Regions from separate parts of the Homo sapiens genome. Here region 2 is linked to region 1. Evidence: fine-mapped QTL for protein levels in blood plasma. A gene starts in region 1. The other region holds a variant in brackets. All regions are shown on one strand. Distances are between the middles of the regions. Region 1 holds the start of EREG (epiregulin). Region 2 overlaps EREG (epiregulin).

Region 1 (10,857 bases):
ATTGCCAAGCTGATTTTTTAAACATGAGAATGGGCTTTATATTTGTATCCAGATTATCATTAAAATTAATTTTGTCTTGGTAACTCAAGCACTAATTTTCCAAACTGTGAAGTATGGGTGGCAATGTGTAACAGCAATTAAAAAAAAGTATATTTTATGTTATTGGTTCTAAACCAGGAGCAAAATTGCCAACCAAGGTTGGCAAAATTGTATCCCTCATTGGCAAAATTGCTCCTGGGGACCATTGCTACCATATGGTAATGTCTGGAGACTATGATGGTTGTCACGACTGGGGATGCTACTGACATCTAGTGGGTAGAGACCAGGGTTGCTGCTAAACACCCTGCAATGCATAGGACAGCCTCCCTGCAACAAAGAATTATTTAGTCCCTAATGTCAACTGAGACAAGGTTGAAAAACCCTGCATTAGACTCATGAGAAATGGAATCCAGTTCTAGCTCACATACTTATTTTGTTTCCCTGCAACTGAGCTGCCTTATCTCTGAAAACAGAGAACAAGGAATGAGGTGGGGTAGAGGGTGAAATGAAGTTTGGATTAGATTTCTCTAAGGTTTCTTTAATTTCTAAAACAATGCTTCTCTTTCTGCCACTGGCAGTCATATCACTGCCACTTTATTCAGTCATATCATAGCTCAGTAACCCCTCTCTCTTCCTCTCTTCCTCTCTTTCTGTCTCTCTCTCTCTATCTCTCTCTCTCACACACACACACACACAAATATCTTCAGTTAATACTGAATAATATAATAATATAATAAGAGATAAAAATGTGAAAGAGAGAGAAGAAAACTTATTAGACTTCATCAGAAACAACAACAGAATTGAATTTTCCAAAACTGTTACTTAACCTCTAGGTATTTTGCTTCTCAAAATATCTTTTTTAATATTTTTAAATACATTTTTAAAGTGCAGCTAATTGAGTCTATAACATAGTGGTGATAACTCCAAATAAAGTATCAATGTGATCATCCATCTAGCAAATATTAATTGTGTTTAATATAAGCCTATCACAATAGAAATGATAAAAGATGACTATAGCACCAGCAAGGAGGGATAGAGTTATACACACACTTACAGTGTGATGTGTGGTGTGACAGGGCCATAGGACAAAAGGAATGGGAAAGGTGCAATGGAGGAGGGTCAGGGCTTATCAGAGAAGTGCCTAAGGAAGTGGCTCCTTTTTCAGTCTTAAAGGATGAGTACTTTCACCAAAAGTAAAGAGTGACTTGAGGGCATTGACAGTAAAGGATACAAGCGTATTCAAACCCAAAGCCTTACATGCTGTGTACTCCTGTTTCCTCATTTGTAAAACGGGAACAATAACAACTTTCTGGGCTAAAAAGGCATCCTAAGAACTAAATGAGGCTTTTTTTTTTGTAAGAAACCATTTTTATGATGACAGCTCTAATTTTAAAAGTGCTTTCTATGAATTCATGTATCATCTTATCCATTAAATCTACATACAATTACCTGACAAGGTTATTGTGGACAACCTTTTTTTTTTCGGATGAGAAAACTGAGGCTCAGAGATAAATCACTCTTTCTGAAAGTATGAAAGAAAAAACTGGTGCATGAAATCTGTATTTTATACACTATACACTATGCCTCTTAGTTCAAGACTATAAAACTTACATATATAAAGATGTGTGTGTGTGTGCACGTATCAATCACTTTCATGCCTCAAATTTAAAATTGAGAATTTTTAACCTAAAAGATTAATGTTTAATACTTTTCTTTCTGAATATTACATATATCTCCATGGAATACATCCATATATCCATGGAATACTACTCAGCCATTAAAAGGAATGAAATAATGTCTTTCGCAGCAAATTGGATGGAGCTGGAGGCCATTATTCCAAGTGAAGTAACACAGGAGTGGAAAACCAAAAAACCATATGTTCTCACTTATACATGTACTATGTGTACTATGAGTACTATGTACTATGTACTATGTACTATGAGTACACAAAGGCATACAGAGTGATATAATGGACTTTAGAGACTCAGAAGGGGAAGGGTGGAAGGTGGGCTAGGGATTGAAAAAAAACTACACATTAGGTACAATGTACACTACTCAGGTGATAGGCGCACTAAAATCTCACAATTCACCACTATAGAATTCACCCACGTAACAAAAAACCAATTGTACCCCAAATGCTACTGAAATTTTTAAAAAAGGAGATGGAGGATAAACCTATATATTAAGAGTCTTATGAGATATATTAAAAAATCCATTTTTTTCTGGACAATTATCAAATCATCCTGAGTATTATAAATAGTATCCTAGTAAGTTAAATCATTACTTTAACCTAGAAGGCCACTCAACCTTTATGTGCCCTATAACTAAACACCCAGTCTTAGGTAAACTGCATCTCCAGAAGACGCTGAGTATGTGGCATTACTTCATTTTTTCAAAGGTTCCAGAATTGCCATGTCAAGGCAATGGCTGTCAGACTACTCCTCCCTGAGGATCTCTTCTATTACACCACTGGGAAGTGTTCTCATTGTCTCCCGATGGAATGTTCCCAGCAGCAGTTACAGCCATATTAATTAGACGATTTGTACAGGCCTACACTCAAAGTAAAGATTGACAGATGAGGAAACCCCACCTTAATTTACATTCTCTTTGAAGAGGATTTCTTACTTGACATTTGCATCTTTCACGTGAACATTAACCAGGAAATGGGAGATTCTTTTGCAAAAATAGACAGAAAACATTCAAATTCAGTTTCTCCGAAGTGATTATATGAGTATTGTTATTTTTTTTAAACCAAGGAAATACATTTACGTTCTCACAGTTAACAGGAATGGGCTATAGATCCCAAGTTGATCCCTTATCAATGCTATATCCAATTCACAATAATATACAAAGAATACAAGGAATAAAACAGACATAAGTTACCCTCTTTATTGCTTTACTTAATGTAAACCTTGGAAAATATAAAAATAAGGGCCCCAGTCAACTGACTTCAATGACTGCTTCATAATAAAAATCATATCTTAGGGGAACTGTGTTGATTAGAAATTATGAACATTAAGTAAAAATTCAACATATTTTAGCACAGCTTAAGAGAATAGTCACCTTTTATTTGCCTGATTTTGCACAGAGTCAGAAAGTCCATTTGTACATGTGCTGTGCCTATGAGAGGGTCTGAACCCTGGAGCAGCCCCAGCTACTCTGGAACTTCTCTATTAGAATCTGCTATGTTTATTATGCTCCTGCTAACCCTGAATCTCATTGGCTCTTTCCTCATTATCACAGAGTGACCTGGCCATTTACTATCTCTGAGTCTTTGTAAGGTACTTGACTTCACTGGGCTAATCAAATCTACCTCACACAGTTATTTTAAGAAGTAGAGGTGATGATGTATTTAAAGCACCTAATACACAACATGGCTGCCACACAGTAGGCATTTAGTAACTGTTAGTTTTCTTCTCAACTCCTGGATTTGGGTCTTAGTGCTGAATCAGACACCCCAATTACCCAAGCTGCTCACATGGCAAGACTGTGCAGAAGGTGGTGAGGGTACCTGGTCAAAATCCAGACAGGAAAGGCCTGTCATCACGTTTTCTGACAAGATTTGTCATCTCAGGTTGTGCCAAGACTCAGGTAACTCATAAACTCTCAGAGTCAACAGAAATGATCAAAGACAAGCCTATTGTCTCATTGAGATTTATGCTCCTCATATTTTCAAAAAAGAATATTTCTTCTGCTTAATTCTCTCTCATTGATGAAGTACGACTAAATTATCTTGGAGATGTCATTCAGGAACATATTCAAAAACCCATGTAGGCATGAATAAAAATGTTTGATGTTAAATAGAAAGCCCCTGAACATAACTGCAGAATTCAACATAAAAATTTATCCTCCTCTCTTTAGAAAAATCACAAGATAAAAAAGACAAAATTCTGCTCTAAAATTATAGATTATTTAAAAAAATGTTATCCGGTATTTCAACTCTTCTACTTAATGTTCAGTAGGCCAAAAATGCTAGCAAGCCCAAGTGTGGACTCTCACTTTGTCACTATTTTTCTATGTGAACTTGGGTCACAGTTCCCCAATTTATAAAACAAGAGCCTCAATATTAAACAAGTGTAAAATTTAAAAGTAACCAAATGATTGTGCATAGCAATTTAAATCTGTATGTGTTAAGGGTGGAGGCTGGAACTTTATTCCCTAGTCATAACTACATAAAGCAGTTATAACATGTATGCTAAAATTTAAAATAAATGTCTCGCTCTTTTTTGCTGGGGGAAGGACAAGATTTGGGAAAAGTATTTTTAGGAAATATTTTGTTTGGGGGAAAGAAGGCAATTTCAGAAATAACAGGTGGTCTTGCCAAAATAAGGCTATGGGCTCTGCATAACTGAATAGAGTTTAGAGATATAATACAGAACTTGAAACAGGAACTTTCCTAGTGGCAGAGAAATATCCAAACAAACTGGGAAAACAGAAACTGACCTAACTCATTTGGAAATGGGCTTGGCAGCTGACGAAATAGATGAACTATAATTAAGTAATGCAATGAAGGAGGTAAGCACTTTCATGACAACAAACACACACACAACACACACACTAGTGGGTAGTAACCAGGTTATTCACAGGCTCTGGCTGTCTCAAATTAGAATATTCAATGAAACACCCAGAACAGACATGTGCATTGTTCAGATGCAACCTTACATGTGGGGAAAATAATAAGTGCTAAGTTATTCTGACCTCGAGGTTAATTTCTAACTCTAGGAAGACTGTCACCTTTCTAATTTAATTCTTTTCAAAACAAAGACAGCAAAGCCACATTGTTTACTGAGAATCTTCTAGCAAGTCTTTCTTAGCTCAGTTTTGGCAGAAACCACATATCTAGTTTCCACTTGTGTTCCTGGACTTAGACTTGTAAGTTTCAATTATGCATAGTATGCATTTCATTAGGTCTCTCAACCCCTGAGATAAGGTGTGCCAAAATAATAATTTAACAGTCACATCCTTCACAGGTAGAGTTAGAGTGTCTGGGGAATCAGCCTCATTCCAACTCCAGGGAGAATATGAGACTGGTGGTAACTTTTATTTTTTTATTAAGATATTCATATACGACTTCAAACTCTTTCAAATTCCTTAAACTGAAGTTTAAGGAATTGGAAAGAAGTAATTTTTTTTTAACAGAAAGGCTATTTAGAAAATTTTTCCCCTTGAACTAAATCATCTCAAATAGGAAGACTGGCATTTAAATACCCTCAGCGATCACAGGCTATGGAGTGCAATTAGCAGCAAGTGCAGAACGCTTGCTCCAGAGGCTGCTTGGGAGGCTGCAGGGAAAAACGCAAGCAGCAGGTGTAGGGGCGAAGGGCGGTGGGGAGCGCCAGGACCTGCCCAGGGCCCTTCTGCTCCAGATACCCTCGACCAGTGTTTTATTTCTCTTGTGTCTGGAGCTCAGCCAACTGGCACTGGCGCATACCAGCTCCTCCGGGAAAGCTAAACCAGGCTAGGTTTTAGAAAACTGAGCGCAAGACAGAGGAGAAAAGCTTTTTCCCCCCTCCAAAAAATTTCTTACGCTAGTTTCTATTCCCCACTCTCCAACAAAAAGGAACAAGACATGAAATGTTAACAGTGCGTTCCAGGCCTTTAGATTTCTAGGACTGGCAACTTTTCAAAAAAAAAAAAAAAGCTTTTTCAACAACTTTTTATTTTGTTTAATAAGGAGATATTTCAATCCATGCATAACATATATGCCAATAATTAATTCACCAATAAAAAGCATTTTAACATCGATCCCCAGTCCCCCCCACCCCAGTCCCACCATAGGGGAAGACAGACTCACAAAACAAGACGTAATTTTAAATAGAGCACACTTGAACCTGGAGACAACTCCGTACTTGTCGAATGACAAATGCACAGGAGCCTTCCTTATTTGTCTCCTCTTTGGGGCGGCCGGAAGCCAGAGGGGGAGAACTTACCCAGGCAGAGCAGCAGCGCAGGGACCCTGCCGGCACAGAGCATCTCCATCCTCCTCCCCGCGGTCATCGGCGATGGGAGCGGGCGCTGGGGCTTGGCGGAGGGCGGCTGCGGAGAGTGCACGGGCAGGGCGGGAGCAGACGGGCTCGCGGCAGTGGCTGGAGAGCGGCTGTCAGCCTAGAAGGGACCCCACGTTGGCTGTGTCCCTCTGACACTGGAAATATCAGGCAAGTGAGCTCAACTGTCTGGTGCTGCGAACTTTATACTAGGGAGCCCCTCCCGGGCCCTAACGGGGTGAGGTCAAGAGTGCCCAGAGTTTCATAATTGGCCCGAGGGAGGAGCGGCAGGAGGACCGTCAGGAAGTCATCCTCCCTCCCTGGAGCACCTGAGAGTAGTGGTTGAGGAATGAAAAAATGTCTTTCCGATTGGCCGGGGACTACTCCCGAAACTTTTCCATCTCCCTCCGGGAGGTGGGGAGCGTGGACCAGATGGCTTGGTTTGCTTTGTGGGGTCACCTGCCCTGTAGTGGGTGGTTTTGGTTGCTCAGGGTGACGGACATAACTTGAATCAGTCTTTTAGCCAAGGCTGGCGTTCCCCATACATGCCTTTGGAGAGCTGTGCGTGTGACTTACTAACCTCAGCCACGAAAACTCCCTTAACTTGAAGTCTGTCAGTGATTCAAGCGCCCTCCTTGCATTGAAACGCCACCGCCCAGAAAAGCCTTTCCCATCTGCGCCTTCCTTCTGAGACCCCTGCTTCCAATGTGGCTCAGGCATTTATTACCTCAAAGTCGAGTCATTGTGAAGAAAATTCCTGTTATTTTTTTTCCTTCTGTCGTATTTGCCATTTGTCAGGTTGCTGCTTTTGATATGACTTCCTACTAAGTAGTGCCTTAATCCTGTCGCTCCCCTGCACAAAACCTTTCAACGACTTCCTATTGCTTTTTGGACAAGGCCTGCCACAAACGTGAAGCCAATCGGTCTTTTCAACCTCAGCTCCCACTATTTCCCCAGGCAAATTGTCTGACCCCAGCCAGGCTGGAAAACTCTAAGCCTTTCCTCACTCCCACTTTCCTGCCTATGCTGATGGAGTCGTACTTTGAGGCAATGGCTACTTTTTAAAGGAATTAGTGAAATCCTGCTCAAATTCATGGTTCTCCTCAAGGGCCTGGGCTTCTTAGGCTTGTGGATCTCTTTTCATTCTGATCTCTTATAGCTTTTGTCGTTTATCTTCTCCCTAGCCTCATAGAATTCTAGACCCGGTACTTTACACCTGGGAAAGCTACTTTGTATTCCTTGACTTTTTTTTTGTTTGTAAGTCCTATGTTCAGCTCTGTACTGTGTAAATTGTCTTCCTTTTCACTGCACTCCTCTATAGGACCTAAGAACTGTGAGTCAATTCAGCAGTACTGTATGTAAATATACATATTTGAATAGAAAATGGAATCTAATGGATGTTAACTCCTTACCTTTTTATTTCTACTTTTTAAAAAATTATTATTACTATTCCTTTTTTTTTTCTGGCTTTTTTCTCTCATACTCTAAGGCCCTTTAATGTCCAGAATGCTCTTGTTAGAAACAAATACTTCGGCCGGGCGCGGTGGCTCACGCCTGTAATCCCAGCACTTTGGGAGGCCGAGACGAGCGGATCACGAGGTCAGGAGATCGAGACCATCCTGGATAACACAGTGAAACCCCGTCTCTACTAAAAATACAAAAATTAGCCGGGCATGGTGGCGCGCGCCTGTAGTCCCAGCTACACGGGAGGCTGAGGCAGGAGAATGGCGTGAACCCGGGAGGCGGAGCTTGCAGTGAGTCGAGATCGCGCCACTGCACTCCAGCCTGGGCGACAGAGCGAAACTCCGTCTCAAAAAAAAAAAAAAAAGAAACAAATACTTCATCATGTTATCAGGGGTTAAGATTTAAACTGTCTGTGTGTGAATTCCTGGACAAGTTATTTAATCTGTCTCAATTTCCTCATACGTAAAACAGGGATAATAATAGTATCCAGCGCATAGGAAAATAATGAAAGTGCTTAGTAGAGTGCCTAGTACCGAGTTAGTGCTCACTAAAAATACCTACCATTATATGCAAACGTTGATGCTTAAGATGGTGGTACTTGGTAGTTGGTCAATATTTGTAAGTTAAATGAATCAATGAACAGTAGGATAGAGGTAGGCTGGGTTCCTAAGTCTAGCTTCCAAATCTATCAAGAAAGCAGGCATTGAGTGACTTCTCACTTAATAGCTTATTTTGGAAAAGAAGAAATGGAACCAAGGAAAATGATATTAGAAATGGGTTATAGTTTTATGGAGCATTGGTAGAGATCACAAGTTTCATAAATTAGAAAGAGGTAAAGTGACTTTTATGGTTATATAATGGCTTTTGTCCTACAAATTGGATCTGGAAAAAAAAATAGTCCCAGTGTTTTTGAGGAATGGAAGCAGAATTCAAACGAATGGAATGTCAACTGGGAGCATTTTCTATCAGGTACTTGCAAAGAGTGAGAGGAAGAGTTTTTAATCCTGATTAATGGCTTGTTTCTTTAAATATAGTGTGTTTTATGCTGAAAAGAAAGATGGTGGGGATGTGATGGGGAGAATGGGTCATGCTGACAATAATTGACAACAGTCACTTCTATGGTATTGATATGTGAAGAGGAATTTTTTAACTTTGTAACTAATGCCTGCAAGCATGAGATATCATCACTGTGAAAAAAATCCCTGTGCTTGTCTCAAAATTTTCCACAGCAATGTACTCTTTTGTAGGCTGATTTTATATGATGTGAAGAAATCTTTTCTTTATTAGTTCTATGTTTACTCAATTTTCTAGCCATTAGATATTGAGAATGACTCCACCATGACACATCAGAGGATTTGCACGCACTGCCTCCGCAAAATAGTATTCTTCTTCTTTTTTTTTTTTAAATAATTGGGAACAATTTTCATTAATTGTTCATTTAAATATATATACATAGTATGCGGTATAATCATAATTCCTCTTAAAGGCACAAAGCTTATTTAAAGATAGAATGGTTTGGGAAGAAAATAACCGGGTCATATAGAATTTTCCAATTAGGAAGTCACTTTAATACATCAGCAATGTCAGCAATTCCCAGTTTGAGATGTACTGGGATTCCTTTCCAAGGGGTTGGTAAATCGAATTATCTATAGACTAAAGCGCGCGCACACACACACACACACACACACACACACACACATATATATACTATTTTAAACATACATTAAGTCTCTATGTAATTAGTAACATGTATTCATTTTAAATTGATATTGAATTCATAAACGCTTTGTGGCATGTGTTTTTTCGTTGATATATAACAAACATATAAGCGCCGTTAAATGGGGAAGAAGAGTCTTGCAAAAAATAATCCTTTTAAATTAAAAGGGAGTCCTCTCATGAGAAGAATTAGGAAATCCTAGACTGGGGACATACACACACAGGCCCCAAACTGATATCAGTATTAAACCTATTGTAGCCTGCACTCAGATGAAGCCCTGGGCCCTACCCATAGAACCAGCATTTAGCAACAGACAAGGACATAGAACACGTTACAATTCTTCCATCTCTTCCTCTTTCCCTCAGGTTATTGTTTCTTCTGACTATAACTGGCACTTATTTATTATGAAATTACTGCTTTTCTAACTAAAAAAATGAGCATAGCTACTTGAGTGAATTAGTTTTTACATAACACAAAATGTTTTAAGTCGTTTTTTAGTCCTTAGCAAAAACCACTGAGATAAAATGGTATTGGGTTGCCTTTTTACAATTAAGAACTTGAAAAATTTAGGAACGTGTTCAAGATCAAATTGTTACATTTAATATAAAAAAGACCTTAAATATGAATTCTGTTCTAGCAGATGCTAATTTTTAATTAACATTATAAATTTAATTGTATGTTAATCATACAGGATATTTTTAGCAAGCTCCATGTAAATGAAAAATTTATGCCTTTTATGATATATATATTTTTTCGAGACGGAGTTTCATTCTTGTTGCCCAGGTTGGAGTGCAATGGCACGATCTTGGCTCACTGCAACCTCCGCCTCCTGGGTTCAAGTGATTCTCCTGCCTGAGCCTCTAGGGTAGCTTGGATTACAGGCATGCACCCCGATACCCAACTAATTTTGTATTTTTAGTAGAGACAGGATTTCACCATGTAAGTCAGGCTGGTCTCAAACTCCTGACCTCAGGTGATCCACCTGCCTCAGCCTCCCAAAGTGCTGGGATCACAGGCGTGAGCCACCATGCCCGGCCTGTAATAGCATTTCTACAGAAATATATGTAGATATAGAGAAAGTTGCAATTCTGAACCCCAAAAACAATCCAGTTAGAGACAAAATAGAGAAAAGGAAGAAACATATATTGATGTAGTAATACTCTATTTTACTTAAATAGCTTTTATCATAGATTTTTTAAAAAATATTTTTCCTATGGACTAATCCATTCTTGAATTGGTTTAAGAACTCAAAAAGTAAATTCTCTTGTTTTTCTTTCAATAGAAAATTAGATGTAGAAGAAAACAAGAACTAAGAAAGTTTTAAAGTTTACTGAAATCTAAATCATATTTTCTTATTGATTATCTTGATAATTTGAGAGTTTTTCTGAAATGAAAAATGACTCCAACGCATTTAAAAAATTACATACCATTTGAGTATTGAGTGACTGATATGGATGGCTGATTAGCCAATAGCTGATTAGATGAGAGGATTCATTAAAATACAATTTATTCTATTTATTCAAAACTATAGGTGGAAAGGAACATGCAAGTAATGGATACTTGTTCTTAAATCTAAATGAGATATAACAAATAATAAGAATAATAGCAGCAAATATTTCTACATGATACTTATAACTCACTAAGTGGTTCAAA
Region 2 (10,857 bases), 16 kb before region 1:
CACCCATAAAAAGTAATGTGGGTCATACTTTATTATTTAATATGCATTTACAAAGATCTAACTATTTTAGGGATTAGCTTTTTTAAGCATTCTTAAAGATGAAAAATACAAAAATGACTTGTTTTTATGAATTGACATGCTTAAGATAAACTGACAAACCAAGATTGAGATGCTTACAATAAATCTTTTGTAAATGAAATAAATGGATTGCAGCTGATTTATTGAAAAGTCAATAGATTTTTTTGAAACAGCCAAGATCACTGAAAATATTCAGACTCTCCTCACATCTAGTAAGCGTTAATAAATACAGTTGTACCTTGGTATCCACAGGGGACTGATTCCCAGATCGCCCCCCTGCACATACTAAAATCGGGCACAGATGTTCAAGTCACTTATATAAAAGGGCATAGTGCTTGCATATAACCTATTCACATCCTCCTGTATACTTAAATCATCTTTACATTACTTGTAATACCTAATGTAAATGCTACGTGCGGTGGCTCACACCTGTAATCCCAGCAGTTTGGGAGGCTGTGGAGGGTGGATCTCAAGGTTAGGAGATTGAGACCATCCTGGCCAACATGGTGAAACCCCGCCTCTACTAAAAATACAAAAATTAGCTGGGCATGGTGGCATGCGCCTGTAGTCCCAGCTGCTCAGGAGGCTGAGGCAGGAGGATCTCTTGAACCCGGGAGGTGAGGTTGCAGTGAGCCGAGATCGTGCCACTGCACTCCAACCTGGGCAACAGAGCGAGACTCCATCTCAAAAAGAAAAAAAAAAAAGTAAATAGTTGTTATAATGTATTTTTTGTTGTTGTTGTATTATTTTTTAAGCATTTTCCGTCCTTGGTTGGTTGAATCCACAGATGTGGAACTAACCACAGAGGGCCAACTGTAAGTAGAGTATTTAAAATGTGTTCTTACATATTTTGACTTCAGCTGTATTAAATAGGAAACAGAAATAACTGTTTAGATCTAATTGATTTTTCTTTTCTCTTGTTTTTAAGTTTTATATAAATGGTTAGCAGAGCACCAAATGACTGCAATTCTATGATCCATTAAGGTCATGTATACATACATGTTTGTATATGAATATATATACAATATGTATATGACCATATATATTTACTTGTTTTTGTCTGTTTATTTTCCTAATAGTAAGGGCCAGGGCCAGGACTTTAGATGACAGTCGTGTGATTGCACCAGGGTATATAATGCATGGATACACATGGAGACAAGTCCTGGCACCTGGTGCTCCAGAGGTCAGCCATGGCTTATTATGCCTTCGTTTACCCTAGCACATGCCAGGATAAACGTAGAGGAAGAACAGATCCTCCCTGACCTGGTATGTGATCCAGGGAGACTCTACTCAAAGGTTTAGCATTCGATGAAGGAGCCTCCCATAAAATCCAAAAGTGGTGGCAGCAGTGGCTCCTTATGCAATAGCCCAAAAATACTCCTATTAACTCTCTGAGACCTATGGGCTCAGAGTGCAGAAGAAATCTTTGTCTCTTCCAAAAAATAAACAAATGTCAGGAAAATGAGCCCTAGTTTTCATCTCAGCCTCCACAGGAAGGTGTGTTTAAGTTTCTACATTTTAAAAGCTTTCAATTGAGATTTTTCATTTGGAAAAATACACCATATTAATTTTTAAGTTTTTTCCCATTTCCTGTGTCAAGATACAACTTTAAATACATAACTTTACATTCTAGAAGAAGCCATTTACTGAGCTGTATTAAAGTTAAAACTTCCTTGAATAAAAGATGAAATAACTGTATTTCCATCTTAAGACAACATGTAGAATTATTGTCTTCATATATTTTAAAATAATAATTAGTCCATCAAATTTTGGGCTGTGATTTAATGTTAGAATTCAGCAAAGCCCCTATAAAAAGAAATAGTCTAAAAATATTCTTAAAAAGCACAAATTTAGGCTTCAAGTGTGGACTTTTTTCTAATTGTCTGTTGAGCAATAATTACCTCACATAAATGTTGTAATATACAAAAAAGGAACATTGTGAAGCTATGAAATGCCCACTACTTAAATAAAAGATTACAGAAAATTGTTTTTCAATTCATTTTACATAGGCAGAATCTGGTAGATGAGTGACTAGTACCTGTAGGAGTCGTGAGTTGGCATAGGGAACTGTCCACTGCCCCTCATATAACAGAATTATAGCTGAGACCTGAGTGAAGAGACCATAGACTCCCCAGGGTTAGCTTGTTTCAAATGTGTAGTGTTTAACACAGGACCTATATTTGCTTCTCCCAAATTCTAATTGCATTATTGTTTTAATATATGATACCATGGTGCCAACTACATATCAAACCATGGTACAGTCAAACCAATTATCACTGATTTGAGGAACATAAAAAACATACTTACTAAATCGATTTGACTATATATATAGGCTTACAGAAATCTGTCATTTGCTAACAATTCTTGAGCTATGACCTGGGAATTGCTTACTTCTAAGCACTGTGCACCAGGCATATAAACTTTGAAGCTTTCAATGAAGCATTTAGCTCAGGAAATTACTTGTATAAAAATATCAATTTTCTTTTGATATTAAATATTTTCTGCACATTATACATTAGCAAATAGTCTGTCAAAAATAAAACAAAAATAAAAACATTTTTCAAGTACATTAAAATACAGTGTTATTGACCTAACACTTGACCCAACATAAATATTATTAATAAAATGGGAATATTAATATTAACCAGGCACACTGTTATCCCTGCCCATAAGTTTGATGGCGCCATTCAGACTTGCGGCAACTCTGGATCCCCTGAGGTAACTCTCTCATATTCCTTCTTTGGTTCTTTACTTTTTCGATTTCTGTACCTGGAAATATTCACAAACGAAACTGTTAGCACTGCAGTTAATAGCAAAGGAACAAGTGTGTTATATATGGACTCCAAAGGCACATTAGCATAGTGTTTCCAAAATGACAAAGTTGAACAGATTTAGGTTGGACAATGTTAAAAAAAAAAAAAAAAAGAGGGATGAAGAGGTGATGTGCTGTAGTCAAACAATTTTGGAATGAAATGATAAAATACACTTAAAGAGTTTCTCAAAGTCTTTAACGTGATCATGAATATTGTGAAATTCCAAGAGGCGTGTGGCCACATTTAAGTCTGAATTTTAGGTTTTCTTTTTCTGTCTCTCTTTCTTTTTCCTTCCTCCCTTCTAAGGAATGAATATTTACAAATCATGCTACATTAATACACTCTTTCCATCACATTGATATAATGCTATCACTAATCAAAATAAAAATAATATTTATCAGGCACTAATTTGGTGACCTACAATTTTCTAAGTGCTATACATGCATTATTTATTTTACTCTCACATTTGCTGTTACCATCCTCATCTTACAGATGAAGAAAGTGAAATACAAATGGGTTGTATATAATGTGCCCAAGGTCCAAGGTCTCATAGCTAGGATTCATAGATTTATCATAATTTAGAATCTTCTTTCATTTATTCATTAAGCTATTTTCCTAATATTTTTGAGTTTATTTTGTCCCTATTTTGGAAATAAGACATGTAGCTTTGAGGAAACCACATCATGTCTATGTTTACTGTAAGAATATGAATTAGAAAGAATTTGTTCTTCACTCTGGCATTTGTCAACTATATGAGCTGGGATATTTGAATGAACCTCTCTAAACCTCAGTGCCCCATCTATAAAGGAAAGGATTGTGGTCAAAGATTTGCAGGCATATTTCAGTTTTAATAATATTTAGTTCTGTCATGGCAACTTATTAGGAAGGCATTATTATTTGATGGATACTTAGAATCAAATGTGGACAAAATAAATTTAATATTATGAAAGTAGCACACTTTCAGACCTTCAAAATTGGAAGTGCACTACTTTCACAGAAAAATAAAAACGTAAATTCACCTTGAGTAATTTGTAACTGTTTCAAAATATGTTTCATGGAGACATTTTAAAGGGAACTGTTATTAATTAATTCACACTGTTCCCATCCTTTGCTCCTAACCCTTAAAAAAATGCCAAACTATACTTTCAATGTTCACTTTCTATTTTTCTGTTTTCAGCTTGTGACAATAATGCACATGAGGATGAGGTACGACTGTTTTGGGGGACTGACACAAACTATTTTTTAACAACCATTTTTTATAATTGTCTAGAAATAGTTCCACCAGTCTGCCTTAAACTGTAAGATAACCCAAGCTTCTAAGGTTATTAATTTACAAGGTTGTTTTTTATAAAATAAAAAATGTGACTTGAGGAATTAAATTCAGGTGGTTAACTATAACAGTAGCACCTATCCTATGATTTACTTTCACATGAAATATCATATTACATACTAAAAGCAACCACCCTATAACTAATGTAAGATAATAATTTCTGTCCATATTTGATAAAGAAGGGAATTGATACTCTCAATTTGACTTATGTAAGGTCACATAGGTAATAAGTATCAGAGCTGATAATAAAGTTCAATCCAGATGTTCTGCAGCAAAAACATATTTTTAAAAAATAATTTCAAGTTATTTCAGATTCGGGGGTACACATGCAGGTTTCTTAACAGGATATATTGTATGATGCTGAGATTAGGGGTACAGCTGATCCCATCACTCAGGTGTTGGGCATAATACTTAATAGTTTCTCAACTCTTGTAAATATCATTTGTACAGGTTTGATCTTATCTCTCTAATACTTTATCCATATTTTTACCCAGTTTATAGGTCTGCATTATGTAAAAGTAATTTGTAAAAGCAGAGTATAAAACCACACTGACTTACCATCTG[C/A]AGAAATAATATGTGGAACCGACGACTGTGATAAGAAACAAAATAATAAGAATCACGGTCAAAGCCACATATTCTTTGCTTAAAGGTTGGTGGACGGTTAAAAAGAAGTGTTCACATCGGACACCAGTATAACCCACTTCACACCTGAAGGAAAATACGGAAGAAAGAAAGATCAGTTACTTAAAAAGGAAATCATGGTTATGAATTAGTTTTATAAGGACTAACATCACACTGTAATGCAAGAAATCAACAAAATTTGCTAAAGATTGTAAAGAGGATTTCAAAGATTGAGTTAGACCAGTAATGATAAAAGGGCTCCACGTAGCTCTTGGACTAAATTGTAGTATTAAAATGACGGTTGTGTTCAGCTGTCATGGTGGCTGACAGTCCACAGTGGTGTTTTGTAAGTTGTACAGGTTTGAGATTCCTTTTGTCTAAATCAGTGGAATCAATTCTTTTTTTGTTTGTTTGTCTGTTTGGTTTTTTTGAGATGGAGTCTCGTTCTGTCGCCCAGGCTGGATAGCAGTGGTGTGATCTCTCGGCTCACTGCAACCTCCGCCTCCCAGGTTCAAGCAATTCTCCTATCTCAGCCTCCTGAGTAGACTACAGTCTTGCGCCACCACGCCTCGCTAATTTTTGTATTTTTAGTAGAGGCGGGGTTTCACCATGTTGGCCAGGCTGGTCAGGAACTCCTGACCTCAAGTGGTCTGCCCGCCTCAGCCTCCCAAAGTGCTGGGGTTACAGGGTTGAGCCACTGCGCCTGGCCTGGAATCAATTCTTTTTTTTTTTTTTTTTTTTTTTTTTGAGACGGAGTCTCGCTGTGTTGCCCAGGCTGGAGTACAGTGGCATGATCTCCGCTCACTGCAAGCTCCACCCCCCGGGTTCATGCCATTCTCCTGCCTCAGCCTCCCGAGTAGCTGGGACTTCAGGCGTCCGCCACTACCCCTGGCTAATTTTTTTTTTTTTTTGTATTTTTAGTAGAGACGGGGTTTCACCGTGTTCGCCAGGATGGTCTTGATCTCCTGACCCCGTGATCCGCCCGCCTCGGCCTCCCAAAGTGCTGGGATTACAGGCATGAGCCAACGCGTCCGGCCTGGAATCAATTCTTAAAACAATACCTGATATAGAAATTGAAGGAAAAGATCCAAAGCAGAGAGACACCATCTTGGCAAGTGTGAGAAGCATCAGAAGTCCTCCCTGCTCTGCACCTCTGACATATGTGTGCAATTTAAAAGCTACTATTTACTACCTAATTTTTAAAAACTCAGAAAAGTTTCTAATAATATATATACTGCATTTAACAGCCCATGGAAATATAGGGTAATTTCAAAATATAAAAATAGAAATACAAAGAGTAAAACTGCATTTGTTTATCACATGTTCTCACAAGTGGGAGCTAAATAATGTGTACACATGGTCATAGAGAGTGGAGTAATAGACTCTGGAGACTTCAAAAGGTAGAAGAGTTTTGGGGGGGTTAAGGGATGAAAAATTACCTAATGGGTTCCATGCACACTATTTGAGGGGTAGGTACTCTAAAAGCTCAGACTTCACCACTACTGAATATATCCACTAGCAAATCTGCACTTGTACCCCTAAATCTATAAAACAAAATTTTACAAACTGTGTTTGTTTATTTCTGACATATTACCTGCAGTAGTTTTGACTCATGTCCACCAGATAGATGCACTGTCCATGCAAACAATAGCCATTCATGTCAGAGCTACACTTTGTTATTGACACTTGAGCCACACGTGGATTGTCTTCTGTCTGAACTGTAAAAGAAGTGGAAAGTTGAATATATTCTGCAGCCTTCATGGAAGAATTTCTCACTCTTTCATAACAGTAACCACTGAACTACTTCTACACAACAAGTCAGATGCCAATCTGTCAAGGAGAATTTTGAGAAGTAGGAAGTCACTCTAGTTGTCACACCCCCTAGACCAATCAATAAACACTTGAATCCAAAGGAAAATGTCCAACAGACTAAACAAAAGAAGATAACATGAAAGGATTTCATTCTCAAAAGACAACCTGTAAGGGTAGAGAAGGCAAATTTAACACACAGGTGTCATTATCCTCCAAGTGGGTGTTATTTCTTCAAGCAAAATTTGTCTAATTTTTCTCAAGTCCCAAAACATTTCTGAAATCTATTACTCCCCAAAGCAGTTGCAAGCTCATACCATTAATTAATTCAAAGGAGCTTAATTCTACAGTGGATTTTTAATCAGTAAGGCTGGCTTTGGTGTATGTTTTCAAGTTGCTGAGGTTACCATTAATGAAATTAACCAGTCTCCCAATATCTCTGATAATGAGGCCTGAATCCAAACTAGACAAACCCTGAGTGAGAAAGGCCTCTGGTAGACAAATAACAGCAATGAAAATAGGAGCCTTTGTGTAAAATTCACTTTAGAAAGCTTTAGATACCAAAATGTGAAAGATGCTTATAAAATTACTTTTAAAATAGCAATTTGATTGTAATACTCTTGCCCAAATAACCAAAGAAGGAAAAAAAAAAAGATGATGCGGAGGAGGCTGACCAAACCTGCGGAGGAGGCTGACCAAACCTCCAGAGAACCTGATGGTGAGGGACAAAAGATAAAGTTGTTATGGAAAATATCCTGCTTCCTCAAAATAACTCAGTTATCTTGATTCAATAACTCAGAATGAAGATAAAGCTGATCCCCCTTGGACCATATCTGGAGTCCACAGTCCTCGAGGGGAAAAAACTGTATTACTTATCTTTGTATCTGTATGCCTTAGCACAGCGTTTGGTGCATACTACATACTCGATAAATGTTTTCTGAATGAACACTGTGCCTAGAAAGAAACGACTATCATTTGTTCTTCTTACAAAGAGAGAGAGAGGGGTAGAAAGAGAGAGATAGAGAACCTATTCTGTACAAAGTTTTCCTGTTTTGCTGTTTTGCCTGGAATCCAGTCAGTGTGGTCTCTGAGGATGTTTCGCAGTAAAGTGCCAGGAGACGGCCAAAGGGAATGCAATTTTTTGTTGTTGTTGTTCCCTATCTCTTCACAATCAAATCTGTGTATATAATTTATCCGGTCCCTCTCCTACCAGTTATTCCTTTATATAATTTTTTCAGAACATTAGTTTATATGGTGATTTAAAAAGTAATATAGCAGCTATTCTTACCCTTTTTTAAAAAATTATCACATACTTATAGTCTTTGAGTTTATATTTCTGTTTAAAAATATGTAGTCTCTTGATGCCACATTGACAAACTTGGGCTTACCTAAAGCTGTGCAGTTATCACTGGACTCTCCTGGGATACATGATGGAATCACAGTTGTACTGAGGACTGCCTGTAGAAGATGGAAACCTATTTATGAAGAAAAATCGAATATATAACTAATGTGTTAAGGAAAGAAATCTTGATCAAATTTCTACATAACTGCAGTACTTATAGAGTTGTTTTGTTTCACAGATTTGGTCCATCAAAACCATAAAACAAAATAATTCATGGAAACAGGCATGTAACAGAAAATACAAACTCCCCCAGCTATTCTGTGGAAGGATAAAAGCCTTGGCATTACATTCACGGTTACAGATTTGACCTGCTCTAAATATTTCACAGTAACATTTTCAAAGATTTGATTTTGAAGTTTGATTTCTTAAGACGCACATCAGTTGGAGAATTTCCACTGTTTTATTCCATCATGTGTTCAGAGAAATGCTCCTAATCAGACCCCATCACAAAAAAAGGCTCTAAATAAAAAATCGGTTTCCACTTACAGTAACAACAAGAAACTCAACCTAAGAAACATTCATTATTGATTTATGTACCTAAGTTACTCTTTGCATTGCATTACACATGAGTATAGATTTTAATTAATACAGTGAAAGCTAGGTAAAATCAGAATATATCTTGTCTAATATGAGGAGGAACAGGCATCCCAGATGAACCATACTGAGCCCTAGAATCCAGTTTCTATCAGCATAGGAAGAGTCTGAATCAGCTGTTTCATCATGTGTATTCAGTGAAAAGATAAAATTTTGGAACATAGATATCAAGAATGACTCAAGTACTTTCTGAATTGTGTAGGAATCATCATAAGAAGAACCCTTGTAATTTCACAGATGTTTAGTTAAGAGCTTTAGCTGCTTCTGTTTAAGCTTTAGGTATTTGCACTTCAAACACTCTTTCCAATTTATTTAAGTAACTGTTATATAGTAAATACTAATGGTGGTGGTAGTAGTAGTAGTAGCAGCAATTAAGCTCCACTAAATTAATTAATGGCTTCAGCTTGCAATTGCTTTGGGGAATAACGAATTTCAGAACTGAGATTTGAAAAAAATTAGACATATTTTGTTTGAAGAAATGAATAATACCTACCGTGGGGGATAATGACATGTGTGTTAAGCTTGCTTTTTCTACACCCTAAAGGTTGTCTTTTGAGAATAAATACCTCCTATGTGATTTTGTTTAGTCGGTTGGACATTTTCGTTTGGATTCCGGTGCTTATTGGCCTAGGGTGCGTGATAACTAGAATGACTTCCTACTCCTGAAAATTCTCCTTGACTGATAGGCAGCTAGGTAAATGTAATCTAGGTAAAATCAGAATATATCCTATCTAATATGAGAAGGAATAGGCATGCCAGATGAACCACACTGAGAATCCAGTTTCTGTAAGCACAGGAAGAGTTTGAATCAACCTGTTTCGTTGAAGTAGCTAAGTAAGTGGTAACTGTTATGAAAGGATGATTAATGCCTCCATAAAGGCAACAAAATATATTCAACTTTCCATTTCTTTCACAGTTCAGACAGAGGACGATCCATCTCTTGAACATGTACTATGTACCAGTGATATAGTTTGGCTCTGTGTCCCCACCCACATCTCATCTGGAATTGCAATCCCCATGTATTGAGAGAGGGACCCGTAATCCCCATGTGTCCAAGGAGGGAGGTGATTGAATCAATGCGGGTAGTTTCCTGCATGCTGTTCTCAGGATAGTGAGTGAGTTCTCATGAGATCTGATGGTTTTATAAGTGTTTGGAAGTTCCTCCTTCCCGCCTCTCTCTCCTGCCACCTTGTGAAAAAGGGGCTTGCTTCCCCTTCGCCTTCGGCCATGATAAGTTTCCTGAGACTTCCCCAGCCATATAGAACTGTGAGTCAATTAAAGTTCTTTCCTTTATAAATTACCCAGTCTCAGGGAAGTCCTTTATAATAGTGTGAAAACAAACTAATACAACCAGGTATGGTCCTATTCACCTTATCTGTATTATATTATTTAGTCCTCTCAGGGCCAATTTGAGGAAGATACTATTATTATCCCCATTAGAGAAAACTAAAGCATAAAGAGTTTAAATAACTTTTCCCAAGGATACATATTGTTAAATGGGCCACTTTATAGAATTTGGAAATAGGCAATAATACTAGAGTATAATGGACATCACAGAGAACAAATTATGATAGCTGTAATTGAAGTAGAGTATTTAACCCAACATAGAGGCCACAAATTATGGTGGAAAGGCAGTCTTGTGAGGAAAACTTGAGCTACGTGATCTTGAAAAAAAATTAATTTACTTTTCTGGGTGTTAATTTTTCCTATCTTATAGATTTTTGGGGAGAATACAGTGAAATAAACTAATGTTTTTTTTTTTTTTTTTCTGAAATGGCTGTCACAGCCCATAAATGTTCCTTGACTCTCAACTTCTAGCCTCTGGTTTTAGCAGTGTATGTGGACAGTGCCCTCTTCTGGTTTATAACAAGTTTGTCTATCTCTGTAATTTGGTACTGTAAAGAAAGATTTAATTCGTGTAATACAAGAATTTTATTTTTTCTCAGTTAGAGAAGGCTTGTATCTGTTAAGCCGATTGTATATTTTTGGGTTCTGAAAAGTAAATTACACATCGGCATCAGCATCATAATGTATAACTTCATATATCAAATTTCACACTTAATTCTGTGAAGTAGTTATTAGTCTCAAATACCCTCAGTGTATTTAAATTAAATGTCTTGTCTAAGATCACTTGTGACCACAGAAGAGAAGAGTTACAAATTTATCTTTTGAAATCAAGTCTCCTGTTCTTCAACAATTTGAAAATTCTG

Evidence for each region. PIP is the chance, under the fine-mapping model, that this variant and not a neighbour inherited with it causes the effect. Sun 2018 read protein levels with aptamers (SomaScan).
Region 2: its variant is fine-mapped to the plasma level of the EREG protein (Sun 2018, PIP 0.95). The variant lies in the coding sequence of EREG. If it changes the protein, the assay may bind it differently, which can mimic a change of level.

Annotation. Positions count from the first base shown.
Region 1 is chr4:74,360,488-74,371,344 of GRCh38, reverse strand. It overlaps EREG (epiregulin), which reads right to left and starts at 6,200. Exons shown (of 5, transcript NM_001432.3): 1 at 5,970-6,200. The coding sequence starts at 6,036. It overlaps LOC105377276 (a long non-coding RNA gene), which reads left to right and starts at 6,004. Exons shown (of 3, transcript NR_188415.1): 1 at 6,004-6,194.
Region 2 is chr4:74,376,717-74,387,573 of GRCh38, reverse strand. EREG (epiregulin) reads right to left here. Exons shown (of 5, transcript NM_001432.3): 2 at 8,040-8,126; 3 at 6,437-6,560; 4 at 4,780-4,929; 5 at 1-2,847. The coding sequence ends at 2,766. Among named protein-coding and RNA genes, the nearest start is that of EREG, 17 kb to the right of the region's middle. The variant C/A (reference allele first, on the strand shown) is at 4,786.